3 linked regions of the Homo sapiens genome follow. The protein of the gene in region 2 purifies or fractionates together with the protein of the main gene of each other region. This does not show direct contact. Each region holds a gene or a part of one and is shown on either strand. Other genes may lie near its edges.

The links. The genes of interacting proteins can lie anywhere in the genome.
Region 1: the proteins of RNMT (region 2) and KPNA5 purify together in Homo sapiens (co-immunoprecipitation; 3 studies listed by BioGRID and IntAct, with this or other methods). This does not show direct contact.
Region 3: the proteins of RNMT (region 2) and HEXB purify together in Homo sapiens (affinity purification with mass spectrometry; 2 studies listed by BioGRID, with this or other methods). This does not show direct contact.

What each region holds. Positions count from the first base shown.
Region 1 is NC_000006.12:116,719,183-116,726,210, reverse strand, and holds part of KPNA5 (importin subunit alpha-6), read right to left. Parts: intron 4,086-7,028; coding exon 3,922-4,085; coding exon of another isoform or gene 3,918-3,921; exon of another isoform or gene 2,887-3,917; intron 1,915-2,886; coding exon 1,836-1,914; intron 461-1,835; coding exon 335-460; intron 1-334. UniProt on the Homo sapiens protein: Functions in nuclear protein import as an adapter protein for nuclear receptor KPNB1. Binds specifically and directly to substrates containing either a simple or bipartite NLS motif.
Region 2 is NC_000018.10:13,750,652-13,757,679, reverse strand, and holds part of RNMT (mRNA cap guanine-N(7) methyltransferase), read right to left. Parts: intron 5,355-7,028; coding exon 5,253-5,354; intron 3,567-5,252; coding exon 3,533-3,566; intron 467-3,532; coding exon of another isoform or gene 321-466; exon of another isoform or gene 1-320. UniProt on the Homo sapiens protein: Catalytic subunit of the mRNA-capping methyltransferase RNMT:RAMAC complex that methylates the N7 position of the added guanosine to the 5'-cap structure of mRNAs. Binds RNA containing 5'-terminal GpppC.
Region 3 is NC_000005.10:74,688,205-74,695,232, reverse strand, and holds part of HEXB (beta-hexosaminidase subunit beta isoform 1 preproprotein), read right to left. Parts: intron 5,906-7,028; coding exon 5,760-5,905; intron 1,595-5,759; coding exon 1,529-1,594; intron 1-1,528. UniProt on the Homo sapiens protein: Hydrolyzes the non-reducing end N-acetyl-D-hexosamine and/or sulfated N-acetyl-D-hexosamine of glycoconjugates, such as the oligosaccharide moieties from proteins and neutral glycolipids, or from certain mucopolysaccharides.

The DNA.
Region 1 (7,028 bases), on a different chromosome or scaffold from region 2:
AAGCTTGATAGAACCCTAATAAATCATTAAAAGCTTTGAGAGGAAGATTATTGCATAACTTATTTAAAACTAATGCAAAAAAATATCTTTCTAAAGACAAACCATTATGTGTCAGGCACTGTGCTAGACACACACACACACACACACACTTGATGTTCTTCACTAGAATACTACAAGTAAATGTTATTATTTTAGAGGAGGAAAGCCCATGTTCTTTAAAATACTTTTTCGGTATCTTTTTAAAAAGGAATCTTTTTTAGTAAAAGTGTTAACTTTTGTCCAAACTGGCTTCTTAGACCTTGCTGTTCTACTCTCAGATCTGAAGGGTAGTTACCTGAATCTGAGCTCTATTTCCAGCAGTGATGTTAGAAACAGTCCAGCAGGCTTCTTTTCTAATTGACTCCTTTGGGCTACTCAATAAATGTAAGAGACAGGGTAATGCAGAACAATTCAAAATTACCTAAAACAAGTTAGAAATGGAAACAAAAAGTTTTATAGTAAATAACCTATATGAAAATCTACTAATGAATTATTTAGATGTACAAAACCCATTCTAGAAAGTGAAATTAAGAAAGGAGAAATTCCTCCCAAAGTAAAACTTGCTGTCTTCTACACGTCTGCTATTGATAAACCTAGTCTCCTGCCACTATAAGGAACTGCCCTGTTCTCAACCCAATAAAATGAAAATCAGAGGTGTATCCTTCATATTTACAAATGTTCTCAGAGTTCAACTGATAAAACTGAAAAAAGATTTGGTGACCGAGGTCAGGATCCAACCTCTAGTTTTGCCAAATGAATTGGTGAAAAAAATACATATATCATACAGTCTGAGAAAATCCAATTCTACAACCATTAAAAACAGCATGTAGAATCAATTGGCTTCATAAAAATTTTTACTATCTTACTCTTCTTCTGTAAACAAGTATATTCTGCATTGTCCCTTTACATTCTTTATTCCATTGCAAGATTAATTATGTTCCTATATTCAAAATACTCCAATGATTTACATTAAATTCATCTGGTGAAGAAGTGTGGAGCAGTGCACTGGAAATCCAACTGAAAATTACAGTATATGTCTAGAATGGCATTTTCATTTCAAGAGCTATATTAAATGAATAACTGTCAATTACTAAAGAGCAACTATTTAATAACTATGATTAGTATCCAAATAGGCCTTTAAAAGGATAAAACTGAAAGAAAATATGTAGGTTAGAATAAAAAATACACTGTAAGGCGGTAAACAAAGGAGAATCTAACGTGTTAAATAATTTAAGTTTCTATCTTCAAGAAAGATTGTGCTGGACATACTGGCTCATGCCTGTAAGTCTAACGCTTTGAGAGGCCAAAGCAGGAGGATCACTTGAGCTCAGGAATTTGAGACCAACTTGGGCAACATAGCAAGACCCTGTCCCTAAAAAATAAATAAATAAATAAATTAGCCAGGTGTGGTGGTGCACACCTGCAGTCCCAACTACTTGGAAGGCTGAGGCGGGAGGACTGCTTGAGCCAGGAGGACTGCTTAAGCCAGGGAGGTAAAGGCTGCAGTGAGCCATGATCACACCACTGCACCCCAGCCTAGGAGAAAGAGCAATATCCTGTCTCTAACTAAACTAACTTACTAAATAAATAAAAAGATTGTAACCCAAATCTGGCTGGAGTCAATCTTGACAGCACATCTTCTTTGACATCTCACCATCCTCCAAGACACAGATACAGACACACACACAATTATGGTGATGCTAAAATCTTGATTAATATGTAATCAAGTTGTATGAAACATAAATTTTTTAAAGTCCTTTATGTTAACAATTTATGATACTCAAGTTTGAACTCACCTGTGTTTGAATATCATCACCAGTCACAATATTACCAACTGCCCTTAATGCAGGTGATACAACTTTATAATCATTGTGCCTAAAAATAATAAAAACATGAACCTAAATACTAGTAAGAATTTAAAATTTACACAGAAGTTACAAAAATACTACAAACTCCTGCGGGGTGTTCAGCCAAAGATCCCATTGAAGTTTTACTAATTATTCTGATAATCTTTATAACAAAGGATCTAATCCAGGATCGTTCATTACAGCCAGTTTTCATGTCTCTCCAGAATGATTTCTCAGTCTTCCCTTAATTTTCATGATTTTGCCATTTTTGAAGATCATAAGCCCATTATTTGGGTTTATCCAATGTTTTTCATGATTAAGACCCAGGTTATATACTTTGGCTGGGGGATATCGTAAGTGCTATAACCTTTTCATTATATCCCAATCTGTTTTTTCCCATTATATTGGTACTGAATTCTGGTCACTAATTATGATGATGTCTGCCAGACTTTTCCATTTTACCATTATTGTTTTCCCATTTATAATTAATATAATTAATATTTTGCAACAAAATACTTTGAGATAATGCAAAATCCCACTCCTTAACCTACTTTACCACTAGATTTTAGCATCTCTTGATGCTTATTATCTGAAGTATTGGTAATTATTAGTATTATTACCAGTGATGTATTTCTAATACTATCATTCTAACTACATGCTTTAGTGTGGACTTATGGGTTTCATATTTTATTCAATAAAATATACATTAATGCAATTTATTTCAAAGCACAAACTGTCCCAGGTTTGGATAGTGAGAACCCCTTCAAATAGGCTTCTGTGTTCTTTTGACATCTGTCCATTACTTGAGCACTCATTACTTCCTGCATTCATCTTACATTTTTCTCAGTCCCAGTCCTGAAACCAGTCATTTCTCCAACAATCTTGGTTCCTTTCAATGGAGAGTAGTGTTTAGAAACTTCGATTTGAACTTCAGTTTCCTCAGCTTATTAATGTAGAAGTGTTACTGTTCCCATGCCCTTCAAGAGGATGCACACACACATACCTACACACATGTATATATTTATTTCCATACCTAGCTATGTTAAGAGCCATGAGTTCACACTGATATTTCTAGTTCTAATCTAAAATAATTAAATTATTCAGGCTTTCTCCTCTTCTATATTTTTATCTCTATTCTCCGATAACAGGAAATAGCTTCTATTTTCCTAACCTCCCTATATCAGCCAATCTTTTACCTCAGCCAGACTGGTACCCCATGATGTGCTGGCTCCAAGTCCTGCTCCAGCCTGCTTATCTGCTCACCCCAGTGGGTGTCATTATCAAGTTGGGGCCCTGATCCCCCATGCTGAACCTGCATGCCCACCCTCCACTGATGCTATCCTCATGCTGGGACCCCCAACTCCTTATCAGACCTATCTTTGTGCCATCTACCTTGTTTGGGCCTACAATGGCTTCTCGACAAAAGAAGAAAGGAAGGAAGATAATACATTTTTTAAAGAGGGTAAGTAGATGAAGTTATGAAGTTACAACATCTTTTTAAAACAAGTTTTCTTCAACGTTTTTAACTTCTTTGTATAGAAAAGCTGTTCTTTTTAAGGAAAATAGCTATAACAGCCCAGCAAAGAGAAACATGTTATCTTTAATAGAGGTGAAATACTAAATGATTTTCACTACATGGACTTTTACTCAAATTAATTATTATAATGAATAATAAACTAGATTATTTGTTCTGTGAGAGGAGAAACTGTGTTCTATACTTCATTAATGTCTCACACAACACCTTAGCAGATAACAGGCATTCCATAAATACTTATTAAGTTTATCTAATTCATAAAGAGATCACATTAAACTAAGGAAATTCATTTACAAAATAATTAGTTCCAACTATAGGACATAAGTTCCAAATTTTAGGGTCAACTTTCTAGGATTATGGCTATTCTGTTAAGTGTTGGGTCAGTAGCTTTTTAATTTTCCCTGAAGACAGTGACTCTTGAGATATTTACAAAGCTATTACTTGAATTGCTAATTTTAATCTCAATCATACAATTATTAAGCATAAATTATTTATAGTTACATCAAAAGTTCCACCAATCTTCGACAGACTCCAGAATCAATGACTGCTTGAATTTTATCATTGGGTCCATCGGAGAGATAAGAAAGGGCCCAACACACGTCTGCTAACACATCTGGGTCACTGCTAAACAACAGTCGTGACAGGACATTTAAGCAAGGTGAAACCTGTAAGGGAAGAAAGAGCATATTTAAATTTTTTCTCTATTTAAAACCAAGTTTCCTTAGAAAAATATAGAAATTCATTTTAAAACAAAAATTTAATGTTATAAAAATACCAGAAAATTTATATTGTTTTAAAATTATAATCAGATGTATGAATATGAAGCTGATTATGACTACTATTATGTTATATTGAATAAGATATGTAGTTAAATTTGTTTTAAAAAATAGTAAAATATTTGAGATCTCTTGTCTGTGTCTAAATCACACACACCCCCACAAAAAAAGCATACCAAAACTGAGAAGTTCAAATGTTCCAGTTAAGTGTTTGATATGATGATCACAGAATATAATCTAACTTTAATGAGCCTCACTGTACTCATTACATGTACTTAACTGGAAATAAATCTAATAATCATTTGAGGAACTAAGGTACAGAAAGTACAAAAATAAATATATTTGTGAAGGGTACTCAAGTGGAAGTCATTAATAAACTATTACACTGATAAGAAGGCATGTAGCACCTAAGAACAGTGCCTGACATAGAGTAGGCACTCAAATGTTGGCTTTTTTTAAATTCCCATGATCACTATTGATGCTATGTTCCTTAAAGCTGTTTTTTTAAAATAAGCAACCTAACATATCCCTTAGTCTTTCTCCTCAGTTAAGAAGTATGTTAAGCTGGGCACGGTGGCTCATGCCTGTAATCTCAGCACTTTGGGAGGCCGAGGCGGGTAGATAACTTGAGGTCAGGAGTTCGAGACCAGCCTGACCAACATGGAGAAACCCGATCTCTACTAAAAAACAAAAAAAAAGAACTATGTTATATGTTATGTATCTCACAAATAAAAAGTGATGACATTTTTCTTAAATGTTCTAATATTTTAGATGACTTTTCTCTTTACCCCTATTTTAAAGAATATCAGTATATAAACGATCCTCTTCTGAAAGCAGTTACCATCTCTGCTGGGCCTGTCCTCTAAAGATGATTTTCAAGATTATCAGCATATAAACTATCCTCTTCTGAAAGCAGTTACCATCTCTGCTGGGCCTGTCCTCTAAAGATGATTTTCAAGATTATCAGAATATATACCACATTTTCTGGAAGTAGTTACCATCTAAAGATGACCCTAGGACTCATGTACACAAATCAGTTAGCTTACATAATAGGTATGTCTATCTGTTAGTGGGCAAATAAAATCAGCACAACTGGATCCTTCTCCAGCAATCAAGCTTCCACCCTTGCCAACCACCTCTTCCTTGAACAGAGAAATCAGGGTTTGTTTTTCGTTTTTTGTTTTGTTTTGTTTTTGAGACAGGGTCTCACTCTGTTGCCCAGGCTGGAGTGCAACCTCTGCTTCCTGGGCTCAAGCAATCCTCCAGCCTCAGCCTCCTGAGTAGCTGGGATCATAGGTGTGAGCCACCATGCCCAGCTAATTTTTGTACAGACAGGGTTTCACCATGTTGCCTAGGCTGGTCTAGAACTCCTGTGCTCAAAACAATCCACCCACCTCAACCTCCCAAAATGCTGGAATAACAGGCATGAGCCGCCACACCCAGCCAAATATCGGGTTTTTGAAGCAAATATAAAGTATGTTTAAAAAAATTAATATAGCTGACATATACCTTTTCGCTGAGTTAAAAAACAATGAACTAATACCTATTTCCAGTATTAAGTGAGCAAAGTAAAAACATTTCTGCCCCAGTATCTTCTCAGGAAAAAAAAAAAGAAACAGAAATACAAATTCCAACTTTGAAAAGGCCAGTAGACATTAATAATCCTGCCCACAATATATAAAGACAAAAGTGAATAAAGAAACAGTAACCGACTTAGAAGAGGGGAGAAAAGTGGAAGCTTAATGCCAGGAGAGGGAACTACCAATAAGAGGAAAGCTAATTTATCTCCCCACCATCAACTCCAAATGCTTAGAAATCAGAGGAACCAGGTATCACAGACAGCAGGGGAAACGGTGCTAAAGTAGAGGAAGAGGTTAAAAATCTGATAAGAAGCAGGATAGACTTTGGGTCCCTACTACAAAGGTAGGTGACTAGCATTCTCAATGCTACCAAAGACTGGAAGTTTATTTGAAGGAGAAACTGGACAACAAAATGTGAATCACAGAAACAGAACTTTGGGATATAAAGCACAGTGGAGGTTGAAATGAAGCACTAGACTAGAAAGTAGGAGATAAGTGTAAGTCTGCATACTGACTAGTGAAAACCTCTAGCTCTTTCCCAATACTCAGTTCCCAGATGTTTATTATTTGTATTTTTTATTTTTGAGACAGGGTCTTGCTCTGTTGCCCAAGCTCAAGGTGCAGTGGCATGATCACAGCTCACTGCTGTCTCAACCTCCCAGGATCAAGCAATCCTCCCCATCTCAGCCTCCTGAGTAGCTGGGAGTACAGGCATGTGCTACCACAGTCAGCTAATTTTTTAAATTTTTTTGTAGAGACAGGCTCTTACAATGTTGCCCAGGCTGGCCTCGAACCCCTGGGCTCAAACCATCCTCTCACCTCAGCCTCCCAAAGTGCTAGGATTACAGCATGAGACACAGTGCCCAGCTGCAGGATATGTAGTAGCCAGGTATGTTACCTACTCTATACCTCAACCCAATCTACCCATCTTCCAGCAAAAGAATGCAAAATCTGTCTCTAAAAAAACTGAATGGTCTCACAAAAGAGACTGAAATTTAGTGTTCCTCTAAGAAAATATGGTTTTGCTGCCCAATTATCCTACAATGAAGTCCATTTATACACTCATTTCCAATCAGTTTTTAGTTTCTTCCGAAATTTGTTCAAAAATCACCAGATAAATGAAGACAGCCTCCAACATTAAAGTGATTAAGACAAACCACAAACAAAACAAAAAAAGCACAAAGAAACAAAGATGCCAAAAAACAAACAAACAAATAACACTATAAATCCTTAGATATGACAATTTGCTGGG
Region 2 (7,028 bases):
TGACTTCAAGGGGTTCAACACATCAGTGGAGGAAGTAGCTGCAGACGGGATGGCAACAACAAGAGAACCAGAATTAGAAGTGGAGCCTGCAGATGTGACTGAATTGCTGCAATCTCATGATCAAACTTGAACAAATGAAGAGCTGCTTCTTATGGATGAGCTTGAGATAGAATCTACTTCTGGTAAACACATTGGGAACATTGTTGAAATGACAAGGATTTCGAATATTAATATTACAAAAACTTAGTTGATAAAGACCAGTAGGGTTTCAGAGGAGTGACTCCAATTTAGAAATAAGTTCTACAGTGGGTAAAACGCTATCAAACAGCACTGCATGCTACAGAGAAATCTTCTGTGAAAGAATGGTCAATCAATGAGGCAAACTTCATTGTCTTAACTGCCACAGCCACACCAATCTTCGGCAACCACCATCCATCAAGAGTATTTCCGCCATGGAGGAAAGACCCTTCACCAAGCAGAAAAGATTCAGATTCACTGAAGGTTCAGATGATCATCAGCATTTTTTTACCAATGAAGTATTTTTAAATTAAGGTATGTACATGGTTTTCAGACACAACACTACTACACACTTAACAGACTACAGTAAACATAACTTTTATATGCACTGGGAAACCAAAAAATCTGAGTGACTTGCTTTATTGTGGTGGTCTAGAACTGAACTTGCAGTATCTCCAAGGTATGCCTGTATATCTTCTAATAAAATACCAATAGATTTTAGGGCAAGAAAATACCTGCAAAGGTGACAAATCCTGCAAACATCACAAGGATGTTTGGGGCATGTGCTAGGATACTCAACAGTGAGTCAAGATCAAGTCCATCTAAGCTGGAGGCCTCACTCCTTGAGATGACTTCTTTTGAAGGGAGGGTAGATGAACACAGCTAACTGCCTGATGGCCTCCCAAGACTCCAGCTTCTTGCTCTTCCAACCCAACTTGTACAGGAACACCATAGCAGTTTTTCCAAAATACTACTTTGGTCACCTTATTTACCGGTTTCCAATTTCTTTTAGTTGAAATGAAATGTGGCTAGTAGCACAGCGATAGGACAGAAAACAGGCAGGGTGTTCATCAATTCTGTGGTTCTTGCCAGAAGGTAAGGAGACAAAGCAGTCCCCAGCACTTGCAACACATCAGCGTGCACAGCATGTCAGCACTCACAGCTGGCCAGTATCACTCATGCTGTCCCCCACTCTGTGTGACCTTTGTGCAGCCCAGCCCTGCCAAATCCCACCCCCCACACACCCATAGCAATTGCAAACAACCCCTCAGTCCTGTCCTGTCCTCATTTAGGGTCATTTGAAACCACTAACATGCTAGAGTCTGATTTTCAATACATAATAGCAACTTTCTTTCTAACTTGAAACTCCTAAAAAGTCCCACTTATTGTATAAAATGCCTTCTATGCAGGCATTTCAATTGGGATTTAAAAAAATCAAATCGTGAACCACTTCCACTTCCAGAAATAAATCAATAGCAATTCTCTCCTTTCTCATTTAAAGCCATCTTCTAGAGGAGCAGCAGCTCTGGTGATAGCTTAATGATCAGACCAGTAGAAGTCTAAAATGTAGCCTGGGCCTTTTAGACTCGTGATGGCATGCAAAATACGCTCAACCCACGAAGCCCTCTAGCTTAGAACAGAGCAATTCATCAAACAGCCAAACAATCCTGGGGTGCTACACCCGAGGTGCAATTTGGCCACTGCTCTCTTCGCATGTCCAGCCCATCTCTTCCAATTGTCTGGGGCCATCTAATTTTTCATTTGTACATGATGACTAAAGTCCACACTTAATAATATAAAAATACAGTTCTAAGCCACAGCCAGTACCGCCATCATGATGACTCGTGATCAAAATTTACACTCTACTTTGGGACCAGCAGGATGTCTAAGACAGGCAACCAGTCTCCACTGCAGGGAAAAAGTAATAAAATCCATAGTTTATGCACATGCTCACCAGTGTGTCAAGCATGATCGTATGTGTATAACATCCTCCAGTCCGATTTCTAGTAATAGTACCAATGTTCAAAGACAAATAGCCTCAAAATACTGGTCTTGCTTGACTCCTTTCCTCTTCTTCTCTATCCAACTCAGGAAGTCTTACTAGATTTTCCTTTTGCCAGGCTTCCATGAAACCATAGTTAAAATGACAGATCACTTAGGTAAGCTAACCACAGGTTAGCTCTGTGATCTTAGCTAAGTTGTTAGTCTTCTCATCTGTGAAAGGAGATATAATACTCTACTCATAAAGTCATTGTGAGGATTAAATGAGTTACAACATGTGAGTTATTACAAGGATTAAAAACGTTACACGCACCTGCACATGTTCAACACTCAGTAATATCAATATTACTACATCCCAGATGTCATTAGTTTAGTTTTCATTAAGCTCTCTTTCACCTTTGTGCCCCACTACAGTATCATTAGCACTTAAAAATTTGCCTAGTAGTGTTTATTTGTGCCTGTTCCTTCCATTACAGTGTAGACTTCTAGAAGGTAGAGATTTAACATCTTTATTTTACTTTACCTTTCACAGAACTTCACGTAAATCAATAATGTTTATCAAATGGATTGTCCTTAATGACCACTTGTGCCTCAACATCACCAACAACCATGTAAGGGGATTCCTACAGTAACAATGAGGCTCTGCAACCTGACTTCCTCAACACCCACTGCTGAAGAACCACAGGCCTTCACAGATTTGCTGTGCTTCTGGCTTCTCTTCTGAACACAGGAACCTCACTTCAGAATATCTTTGCACCACATTTGTCCCCTATCATGCACACCTCTAACACATCCTGCTCATGGATGTTTCATTGAATGTTCTAGTATTATTATGCCTTCACTGTCACATCAGAGTGGCCAAATAAAAAAAAGACATGCAAGTATTCTATAAGCCAAAAATTCCAGTAGAAATCTGAGGTAAACACTTCAAATGGAGATGGCTACTTAGTAACAAATAGGCAATGAGAATGTTTACACATGCTCACTCAAGTTTATGCTGAGGAAGACCCTGTGTACAGTGTATCTTCTCTTGGCACTACACAGCTGTGCAAGAAAGGAGGATTAGACATATGTAGAGATATACGTATTTGTGTGTGTGTGTAAACACAAACACAACCTAAAATGTCAGAAAAACTCAAAGTTTTCAGATTTTTTTTTGAGAGTCTCGCTGTGTTGCCCAGACTGGAGTGCAGTGATGTAATCACAGCTCACTGCAGCCTTGACTTCTCAGGCTCAAGGAATCCTCCCACCTCAGCCTCCTGAGTAGCTGGACTACAGGCACATGCCACCATGACTGGCTAATTTTTTTGTATTTTTGGTAGAGACAAGCATTTGCCATGTTGCCCAGACCGGTCTCAACTCCTGGGCTCGAGGAATCTGTCTGTCTCGGCATCCCAAAATACTGAGAGTACTGGTGTGAGCCACAGTGCCCAGCCTTTTTTCAGGTTTTAATGATCACTTTGAAACAGGACTTTTGAAATTATCAGTTAATCTATGCTGATGATATACTCACTTGTAGCTTCCCATTCTGATTTACTTAAGGTTCCCTAAAATTACAAAAGAGAAAAAGAAAATTTTAGATTCAATATGGAAGTAAACATATGCTTATTTCTAAATAATGGGCAGAGATGGCCAAAAGACCCTAACTTCACTGTAAATACACATTCGATTCACTGTTAATCATATTGTGACCTGAGCATATAAAAGAAATCGGTGAGATTCACTTTGAAAGTCATCTTCTCAGACTTTTATCCTCCTGCCAAATTCTCAAATTCTCATCCAAAGGGTGAATGTGTGTGAAGAGGGCATTGTGTGTGTGTGTGTGTGTGTGTGTGTGTGTGTGTAACTGGAAAATGCATCTATCTTGTATTATTTTTTTTTTCTTTTTTTGAGACAGAGCCTTGCTCTGTCGCCCAGACTGGAGGGCAGTGGCGTGATCTTGGCTCACTGCAAGCTCTGCCTCCTGGGTTCATGCCATTCTCCTGCCTCAGCCTGCCGAGTAGCTGGGACTACAGGTGCCCGCCACCACGCCTAGCTAACTTTTTGCGTTTTTAGTAAAGACGAGGTTTCACCGTGTCAGCCAGGATGGTCTCAATCTCCTGACGTTGTGATCCGCCCGCCTCAGCCTCCCAAAGTGCTGGGATTACAGGCGTTGAGCCATTGCGCCCGGCCTATCTTGTATTCTTTCTTTTTTTTGAGACAGAGTCTGGCTCTGTCGCCCAGGCTGGAGTGCAGTGCTGCGATCTCGGCTCACTGCAAGCTCCGCCTCCCGGGTTCACCCCATTCTCCTGCCTCAGCCTCACAAGTAGCTGGGACTATAGGGGCCCGTCACCACGTCCAGCTAATTTTTGTATTTTTAGTAGAGGCAGGGTTTCACTGTTAGCCAGTATGGTCTCGATTTCCTGACCTCATGATCCACCTGCCTCGGCCTCCCAAAGTGCTGGGATTACAGGCGTGAGCCACTGTACCCGGCCCTATCTTGTATTCTTAATTTGGAAAATGAAAAAATAAAAAAGGCCTATCTTGAAATATCAAACAGCACTGGTGGAAAAAATACAATTTTTGTGTTTTTTCAAAGGAATAACAAAATAAAGTACATATCACACAAAGGAAATAAATTATATTTATGTAGCTATCAAAATATTAAAGATATGTGTTGCTTTGCACACACCATTAACTATAATAACAAGATCTAGTGGCAGTTCTAGTGATGTCATTTTTCCAGATGTGATAAATGAAAACAATATTCTAAGATATTAGCAAAAATGTGCTATGAAAATATCTGTAACTTCTACTGATGACAAAGTCACAGCAGCAGCTAATACCACTGTGGTACTATTGTAGTAATCATTCTTAAAATGTAAACTTTTACGCAGAAATTAGTATAGGTGAAGATGTAATTTTTTCCCATTTAAATTCCTGGACTGCTGCATTCTATGTATGAAATGCTGTGGTTCATTGGTGCCTACATTAGCAGGGAACTTGCACACCAACCCTGTAATTTTTTCACTGTCCTCATTGCCTTAGATATAGCACTCCATTCTCAGTCCATTGAAATAAATTTTATTCCATATTCTGTGGTTATAACAAGTCAACATCACTTAGTGGAAACAACTGATTTGTAAGTCAGTGAGCCTAAGTATTGTAAACAAGTGAAATCATTTCCTATGTCTCCATATAAGCATGTTCTTTTTTTCATTCTCTATAAAATACTTTCATAAATTAAAACTTACCAAAGGTAACCTTACTTGACTGTTCTTCATGTACTTTGCTGCATGTTCATAGTCATCCACCTTCTCAGAGACAAGTTTAGAACTCTCATTTGCAGGATATGGCTGGGGAAAGAAATGAAAGTCCTAGTTACAATAACGGAAATTTACAATTCAGAATTAAACATGCTAAATCACTGAAATAACATAATTAGGAGAATAATCCGTAAGTACTACTTCAGGAATACAAACTATACATACTTTTGAAATACAGAAAAAAATTAAAAAAAAGGAAGAATCCTCTCTTAAACCAATTTTTTTTAAATATTATACTAGGGTATATTATTCCAGGGTACATGTGCAAATCGTTCAGGTTTATTACATAGGTATACATGTGCCATGTTGGTTTGCTGCACCCATCAACTCATCATTTACATTAGGTATTTCTCCTAATGCTATACCTCCCCCAGGCCCCCACCCCATGACAGGCCCCCCGGTGTGTGATGTTCCCCTTCCTGTGTCCATGTGTTCTCATTGCTCAACTCCCACCTATGAGTGAGAACATGTGGTGGTTGGTTTTCTGTCCTTGTGTTAGTTTGCTTAGAATGATGGTTTTCAGCTTCATCCACGTCCCTACAAAGGACATGAACTCATCCTTTTATATGGCTGCATAGTATTCCATGGTGTATATGTGCCACATTTTCTTAATCTAGTCTATCATTGATGGACATCTGGGTTGGTTTCATGTCTCTGCTACTGTGAATCAGTGCTGCAATAAACATACGTGTGCATGTGTCTTTGTAGCAGCATGATTTATAATCCTTTGGGTATACACCCAGTAATGGGATTGCTGGGTCAAATGGTATTTCTAGTTCTAGATCCTTGAGGAATCGCCACATTGTCTTCCACAATGGTTGAACTAGTTTACAGTCCCACCAACAGTGTAAAAGCGTTCCTATTTCTCCACATCCTCTCCAGCATCTGTTGTTTCCTGAATTTTTAATGATCGCCATTCTAACTGGCGTGAGATGGTATCTCATTGTGGTTTTGATTTGCATTTCTCTGATGACCAGTGATGATGAGCATTTCCTCTGTGTCTGTTGGCTGCATAAATGTCGTGTTTTGAGAAGTGTCTGTTCATATCCTTTGCCCACTTTTTGATGGGGTTGTTTTTTTCTTGTAAACTTGTTTAAGTTCTTTGTAGATTATGGATATTAGCCCTCTATCAGATGGGTAGACGGCAAAAATTTTCTCCCATTCTGTAGGTTGCCTGTTCACTCTGATGATAGTTTCTTTTGCTGTGCATAAGTACATCTAATTTAGTTTAATTAGATCCCATTTGTCAGTTTTGGCTTTTGTTGCAATTGCTTTTGGTGTTTTAGTCATGAAGTCTTTGCCCATGCCTATGTCCTGAATGGTATTGCCTAGGTTTTCTTCTAGGGTTTTTATGGTTTTATGTCTTACATTTAAGTCTTTAATCCATCTTGAGTTAATTTTTATATAAAGTGTAAGGAAGGGATCCAGTTTCAGCTTTCTACATATGGCTAGCCAGTTTTCCCAGCACCATTTATTAAATAGGGAATCCTTTCTCCATTGCTTGTTTTTGTCAGGTTTGTCAAAGATCAGATGTAAACTAGCATCTTTTTTTTTTGAGACAGAGTCTTGCTCTGTCTCCCAGGCTGTATTGCAGTGGCAGGATCTCCATTCACTGCAACCTTGGCCTCCCGAGCTCAAGTGATCCTCCACCTCAACCTCCTGGGTAGCTGGGACTACACGCACAAGCCACTATGCTGGCTAATT
Region 3 (7,028 bases), on a different chromosome or scaffold from region 2:
GATTCTGTCTCAAAAAAAAAAAAAAAAAAAAGCGTCTCTTCTCCTTAGCAGACGCAGATGAGACAGGCAGATTGGACTAATAAAAGCTTAAAATCACTAATATTATACATAAATAAAATTACATTTGTAGTAAATATCTAGATATTTTCATATTCTATTTTGAATAAAATTATAATCTTATGGTATAAAATATATAGCATAACAATGATTATTTTAGGTAACACTCTGAGTCAGATTCCAAATCTTTATTTATTTTGTTTTTTGAGATGGAGTTTTGCTCTGTCACCAAGGCTGGAATGCAGTGGTGCCAGCTCAGCTCACTGCAACCTCCCTCTCCCAGGTTCAAGCAATTCTCCTGCCTCACCCTCCCAAGTAGTTGGGATTACAGGCATGCGCCACCATGCCTGGCTCATTTTTTTTTTGTATTTTTAGTAGAGATGGGATTTCACCATGTTGGCCAGTCTGGTCTCGAACTCCTGACCTCAAGTGATCTGCCTGCCTCAACCTCCCAAAGTGGTGGGATTACAGGTGTGAGTGACTATGATCAATCCCAAGCCTTTATTTTAATGACTAAGTTTGGTTAGTTCATGTTTTTTTAAATTCCCTTTCTAAAAACTCTGCTATTCGGAAGTCAGTACAGTATCTTATCTGCCTAGAAAGAAAGGTAAAAGAAACTTTTGAACAGCAAATGTCCTGAGGTCAAACTTTGAAGTTCAGACTCTGAAATTCTCATGAGAAGCTTTTCAAGTTACTCCCTGCCCACTGCCTCTAACCAACTCTATAGCATATTTGCCTTTTGACACTGTTCCTTATACAAACTTAGTTATGTTTCTAAATCTACAGGAATTTAAAATTAGGGAAGAGAGATGCTTGCTTCTGAAGTCAACAGAAGTGATAGCTGAAACAAAATTCCCTAATCAGGACAGGTTGGGGCCATGTGTAGTGCTATAAACATTACAGTCCCAAGAGCATCAATGAATTACAGCACTGCAGGAATGTAATAACCTTCAAACATTTTTTGAGAGGTCAAATGAGTTTTCTCCCATGCTGTATTTATTTATTTGTATTTTTTTGAGACAGGGGTCTTGCTCTGTTGCCCAGCCTGGAATGCAGTGGTGTGATCTAGGCTCGCTGCAGCCTCAACGTCCTGGACTCAAGCAATCCTCCCACCTCAGCCTCCAGAGTAGCTGGGACTATAGGTCCACACCACTATGCCTGGCTAATTTGTGTACTTTTTGTAGAGATGGAGTTGCACCATGTTGCCCAGGCTGGTCTCAGACTTCTGAGCTCAGGCAATCATCACCTACCTCAGCCTCTCGAAGTGCTGGGATTACAGGCGTGAGCCACTGTGCTGACCTCTCCCATGCTTTATGTAGTACATGTTCAATGGAAATCATTTTGGAACTACATAACAAAGCATTCTGTAAAGGATCTAAGGCGGCAAAGTTTTGCTGTGCTTAATTTCACAAAGCACCAACTGAAAATTTTCCTTTACTGGAAAGTAACAATGAAACTGCATGGAACTTACCTCGTAATGCTCCCCAAACTCTGTTGGCCTTAAGGACAGCCACTGGTTCTTTCACAAGTAAAGTATCTGTATTGAGGATTTAAAATCACACACACACTTTTGTTAATCCCTCAATGACACACAATAAGTTTCCTAAACATGTCATTGATATTTCTGGACTATTATTTTCTCCCAAGCACATGACCTATTTCTCTAACTGCCTCCTGTACATCTCCATTTGGATGTCCTGCAGGTTCCTTCGACTCCACATGCCCCAACAGAACTCTTCCCTCCCTCCTCCGCACACTTCAACCTGCTGGTCTTCTGTGTTCCTCATTTCAGTGAGTCACAGCACCACCATCCAGTCACTTGAGTCACTCAGAACGGGAATTTGGGTGTCAACTCCATGTTTCCTCATTTTCCTAAAAGAGTTAGTCTCTCCAACTTCTCCTCAACAGAGTAGGGTCCTAGTTAAGCTAAGAGTTTAGTTGAAAGTGCAAACATTCCTCAGTTCCTACTAATCCTTGGTAACGCCCTAGGTGTCGCTCAAATCTACTCCCTTTAAGGCCAGAGAGTATCTCCACTCTTTTGCATTCAGAATTTTCTACTTGCCCTGTACCCACCTTCCCTCAGTATCATCCAAATCTGCCTTAAGACTTACTCTCCAAATCCCTTTAGCTTAGTTCAGCTTTGTCTCACTCAATAAAAATAATTCAGCTTTGTCCCACTCAATTAAAAGTTCACATCATCCAGAATGGGACTCCAGTTAGCTGCTTCTGGTGAGAGGCTAATCTTTCAATCTTTGAAGCACACTCTAAGGTTGGCCCAATAGTCATTTAGTCTTTTAGAGAGGTCTGGAGTGGAATCAACCACATAGTAAACCCACAGATGGTAAAGAGATTGAAAGCTAAAGGGTGTAACAGCTTTGGACTTTGCCACGGCAAAGACACTGATGGGCTGGAGATTAATGATTTAATACTGTGTCCTCTGGGGTGGTTTATCACCTTCTACCACCACCACCATTCAGATGCTCACAGAATAGTTAGCTGCAGGTAGGCAAAAGTGCTCTATCAGTAGTGTGAGCATCTCAGGTGATAGTCTTCTGACAAGATAGCCTTTTCCATTAGATAACCACACTCCATTAGATGAGTTAGCCAATGCCAGGCTAAGAACTATATTGCTATTTATGAGCATAGTCTAATTATGTTTCCTCTACATCTATAGCAAATTCTTGTGTTGTTGTTGAGACAGAGTCTCACTGTGCTGCCCAGGCTGGAGTGGAGTGGCACAATCACGGTTCATTGCAGCCTCGACCTCCCAAGTAGCTGGGACTGTAGGCATGTGCCACCACGCCTGGCTAATTTTTCTCTTTCTTTTTTTTTTTTTTTTTTGTAGAGACAGGGTTTTGCCATGTTGCCCAGGCTGGTCTTGAACTCCTGGGCTCAAGCCATCTACCGGCCTCAGCCTCCCAAAGTGTTGGGATTACAGGTGTCAGCTACTGTACCCAGCCTGTATCAAATTCTTAATCAGCTACCTAGAGCTCACTGCTCCATTGGTCACTGTTTAAAAACATTTTTTTGCCACATTCTAGTTTTGAGATCTTCCAGAAATAGCACAGTCACCTAAAAAACATTAATATATTGCATATATTTGATACCAATTATTTTCTAATAGTTGACAACTGGCTGATATTAAACAGGACTGTAATTCAACTCAGTGGAAAATACATATAACAATTAGAAATTTGGTTTTCTAAATATATGGACACATAGCTATAGAATTTCCATTTTTACTTCACAACCAAGTTATTAGTGTTAACAATGATCACTTCCCTGAAGTGTGAAAGGAATTATATCATTGACTTTTCAGTTAGCCCATTCTGTATCTTTTTGCACCATAAATACATTTGTTTTGGAGGGTGAATATACAAATGACATATCTATATATTCTGTTTAAAAGCAATATAATATAGATAAGGCTAAAATCTCCTTTGAGATACTCACCTAACTCCCTCTACCTTCCTCAGAGGAAATACTTATCGGGCATTTTCTTAGGCTTGACATAGATGTACACGGAAGGAGAAAATATAGTATTGCTTTATGCGTGTGTTCCTGCACGTGTGTTGATATATAAACAGGGTCCACCTCTACACATAATTATACAGCTTCCTTTGTTCAACTCAGCAGTTTATCTTGTCAGTTCTCCATGTGTGTTCTCAGTAATACTGCTTCTTTATTCTTAACTGTTGTGATTATACTGTTTAGTATAGATTGACAAGATGTATTTAGCCATTCCTCTATTGATGGACATTGAGTTTTATTGACAGTTCTTCACATTACAGGCAAACTGCATCAAACATCCTTGATTTATGTGTCCATTTATCTGCAGTAAAAACTAGTCCACTTCTCAGGGCATGCATATTTTTATTTTTAATAAATAGTGGTGCTTTAACATGTGTCACCTCCTCCAACATGTCCTCCCACTCTGGACATTTGATATCTTGTTATTTCCATTCATATGTGTTACTTTTATCATCATCATCAACTAGTTTAAAGACTAAAAACTAGTTTATTCTTCAGCTGAAAATTTCACAATAACCTTGTCTCAAGAAACTTCCCTTTCAGAATAAAGAGGGTTTGTAGAACTGACTGAAAGATAAGCTATGACTCTCTAGTCTCGATACATTTCATTTTGTGGAATTTACAATCTGTTATCTGTATTGCCAATGGACAGCAAAGATTCCTTGGCAACGTAATGACCATTTCCATCTCAATTCAGGTTGCAAAACCTACTTCACATGGTGTCTGAGTGCTGAGTATCAATTGAAATGATACCTGATGTTGGTGAATTTTCCTATTTCTCTTCTAAGAACAGCTATGGAATTGAAGAGAAAGAAAGCTTTTTTTCAAAGAGATGTATTATTGAGAAATCTCATCTAAACCAGCAGGATGAAGACATGTACTTAACTGTGAGGCAGTCTGGGGGTAATGGAGTTGCTCTTTTCTCTAAATTTGTGGCATCCTATCTTTTTTTTTTTTTTTTTTTTTTTTTTTTTTTTTTTTTTTTTTTTTTTTTTGAGACTGTCTCACTCTGTCCCCCAGGCTGGAGTGCAGCGGCATGATTGCAGCTCACTGCAACCTCTGCCTCCTGGGTTCAAGTGATTCTCCTGCCTCAGCCTCCCGAGTAGCTGGGATTACAGGTACGCACCAACACGCTTGGCTAACTTTTTGTATTTTTTAGTAGGGATGCAGTTTCAGCATATTGGCCAGGCTGGTCTTGAACTCCTGGCCTTAAGTGATCCACCCACCTCAGCCTCCCAAAGTGCTGGGATTACAGGTATGAGCCACAGCGTCCAGCCTCTATCTTTACACTTAGTTCCCCTGTCTGCTCTTTCTTGCACGAATCTTATATTACACATGTCCTTATACTGCCCTTCTTTGATTCCTTGGTGCAATTCCACATTATTCTCAGGCAGTATACCCTATAGAAATGGCACGCCCACTTATTTGTTCTAAAACAATTTGGGAAAAGCCCTAGAGAATAACGTTTTAGGCAACAACGAGGACAAAATCATACAGCTAAATGTTGATTATATTGTACAGCAGATTACAAATGAAACTGCTGTACCCACCCTCTCCCCTAGCTCTGCATTATCTTTCTGTAAAATTAGATTATAAATAGAGATCATGGATACAGATGTTTTCAAAGACAAAAAGTTAAGAAATTACCTAGATGTCCAAAAGAGATTACCCAAGTCAGCTCATCCATATAGTGACAGAACATTATTCAGCCATTGAAAATGATATCACAGAAAACTAGTGAAATTCATGTTTAATTTATAATGTATTTTGCAAAAAAGCATGATATAAAAATACAACAAAAATACAAGAAGCACATGTACAGAATTACTGCCATTTTCATGTCAATGCTTATCATGTTTGTATTTATGTCTATGTAAAATGTTTACATGTTTTACTCTGCAAAAAAATACACCTAAAATGACAGTGATTAATTCTATCTGCTGGGATTATGAGTGATTTATTTCTTCTTCTGCACTTACTGTACTTAATAAATTTTCCACAAAGACTATGTACTACTTTTATAATCAGACTTTAAAGGTTATTTTTAAAATAGGAATCATAAACTCACTGGTTGAGAACTCAGTGGTTCCTAGCATGGAGTCAGTTTTTGGCACTTAAGTCCGTCAGCGAGCACCTGGGATATAATACACTCACATTGCATAGGTACTTACAAGACTCATCTGAAGATATGTTGGGGAAAGCATCACACTCTGACTGAAGGGTGATTGAGACAAGAAGTTGCTGAACCTGGGTTTTAGCCTGGAATTCAGCAGGTTCATGATGCCACTTGTAGAAACCAAAAATATAGCCATGATATCTGTTTGAGAAATAAATGTAAACACATTTTAGAAGGATTTTAGCCAAATTTTTAAAACAGATGTGCTAGTAACATTGTAGTTAACTCCTCAAATCCATGCTGCCCATTGTAAGTCCAACTAGAGATTCTCACCCCAAGCTGTACATTAGAATCACTTGGGAAGTTTTTTGAAAATCCCAACGTCCATGCCTTCAGAATCAGAATCTATTAGAATGGGATTCAGGCATGGGAATTTTAAATGCTTCCCCACACTCTGAAGTGACATATGAAGCCCCGTTAAGAACCAATAATGAAACCATCATGGTAATCCATCACTCTTGGGAATGAAAAACCAATTCTGACCAGTGATAGGATGTGGGGGTTAGGGGGAGTTCTGAGCAAATCACAAGAAAACTTCGTTTCTCTGTATGTGAGAGCTGGACTAGTTGCCACTACACTAAAGTGGACAGAGCAGAGATGGAAAGAATATGGATCCCTGGTAACACTGTTGAGCCACTTGGTCAACTTGCCCTAAATTCATCCCTACTTTTGGACATCCTAATGTGTGAAATAAGTTTTCCTATTGTTTGAGCCAGATTGAGTCAGAGTTCCTGTTACCTTCCTGCAAAAGTATCCTAGCTTACATATAAAGCCCCAAAAGAAGGTCCAGAATTCTCACCAGAGCCTTTAAAATTTACTTTTTGTTGGCCAGCTGCAGTGGCTCATGCCTGTAATCCCAGCACTTTGGGAGGCCAAGGCGGGAGGATCACGAGGTCAGGAGTTCAAGACCAGCCCGGCCCACATAGTGAAACTAAAAATACACAGTCTCTACTAAAAATACAAACAATCAGCTGGGTATGGTGGCAGGCGCCTGTAATCCCAGCTACTCAGGAGGCTGAGGCAGGAGAACTGCTTGGACCCGGGAGGTGGAGGTTGCAGCAGTGAGCCAAGATCGCACCACTGCACTCCAGCCTGGGTGACAGAACGAGACTCCATCTCAAAAAAAAAAAAAGTACCTTTTGTTGGTATCCAAAAATCAGAGAATATTAAATAAAAATTCTGTAAAGGCATTAAATATTGTAAAGGCATTAAATATTAATATTAATATTAAATACAAAAAAAGTACCTTTTGTTGGTATCCAAA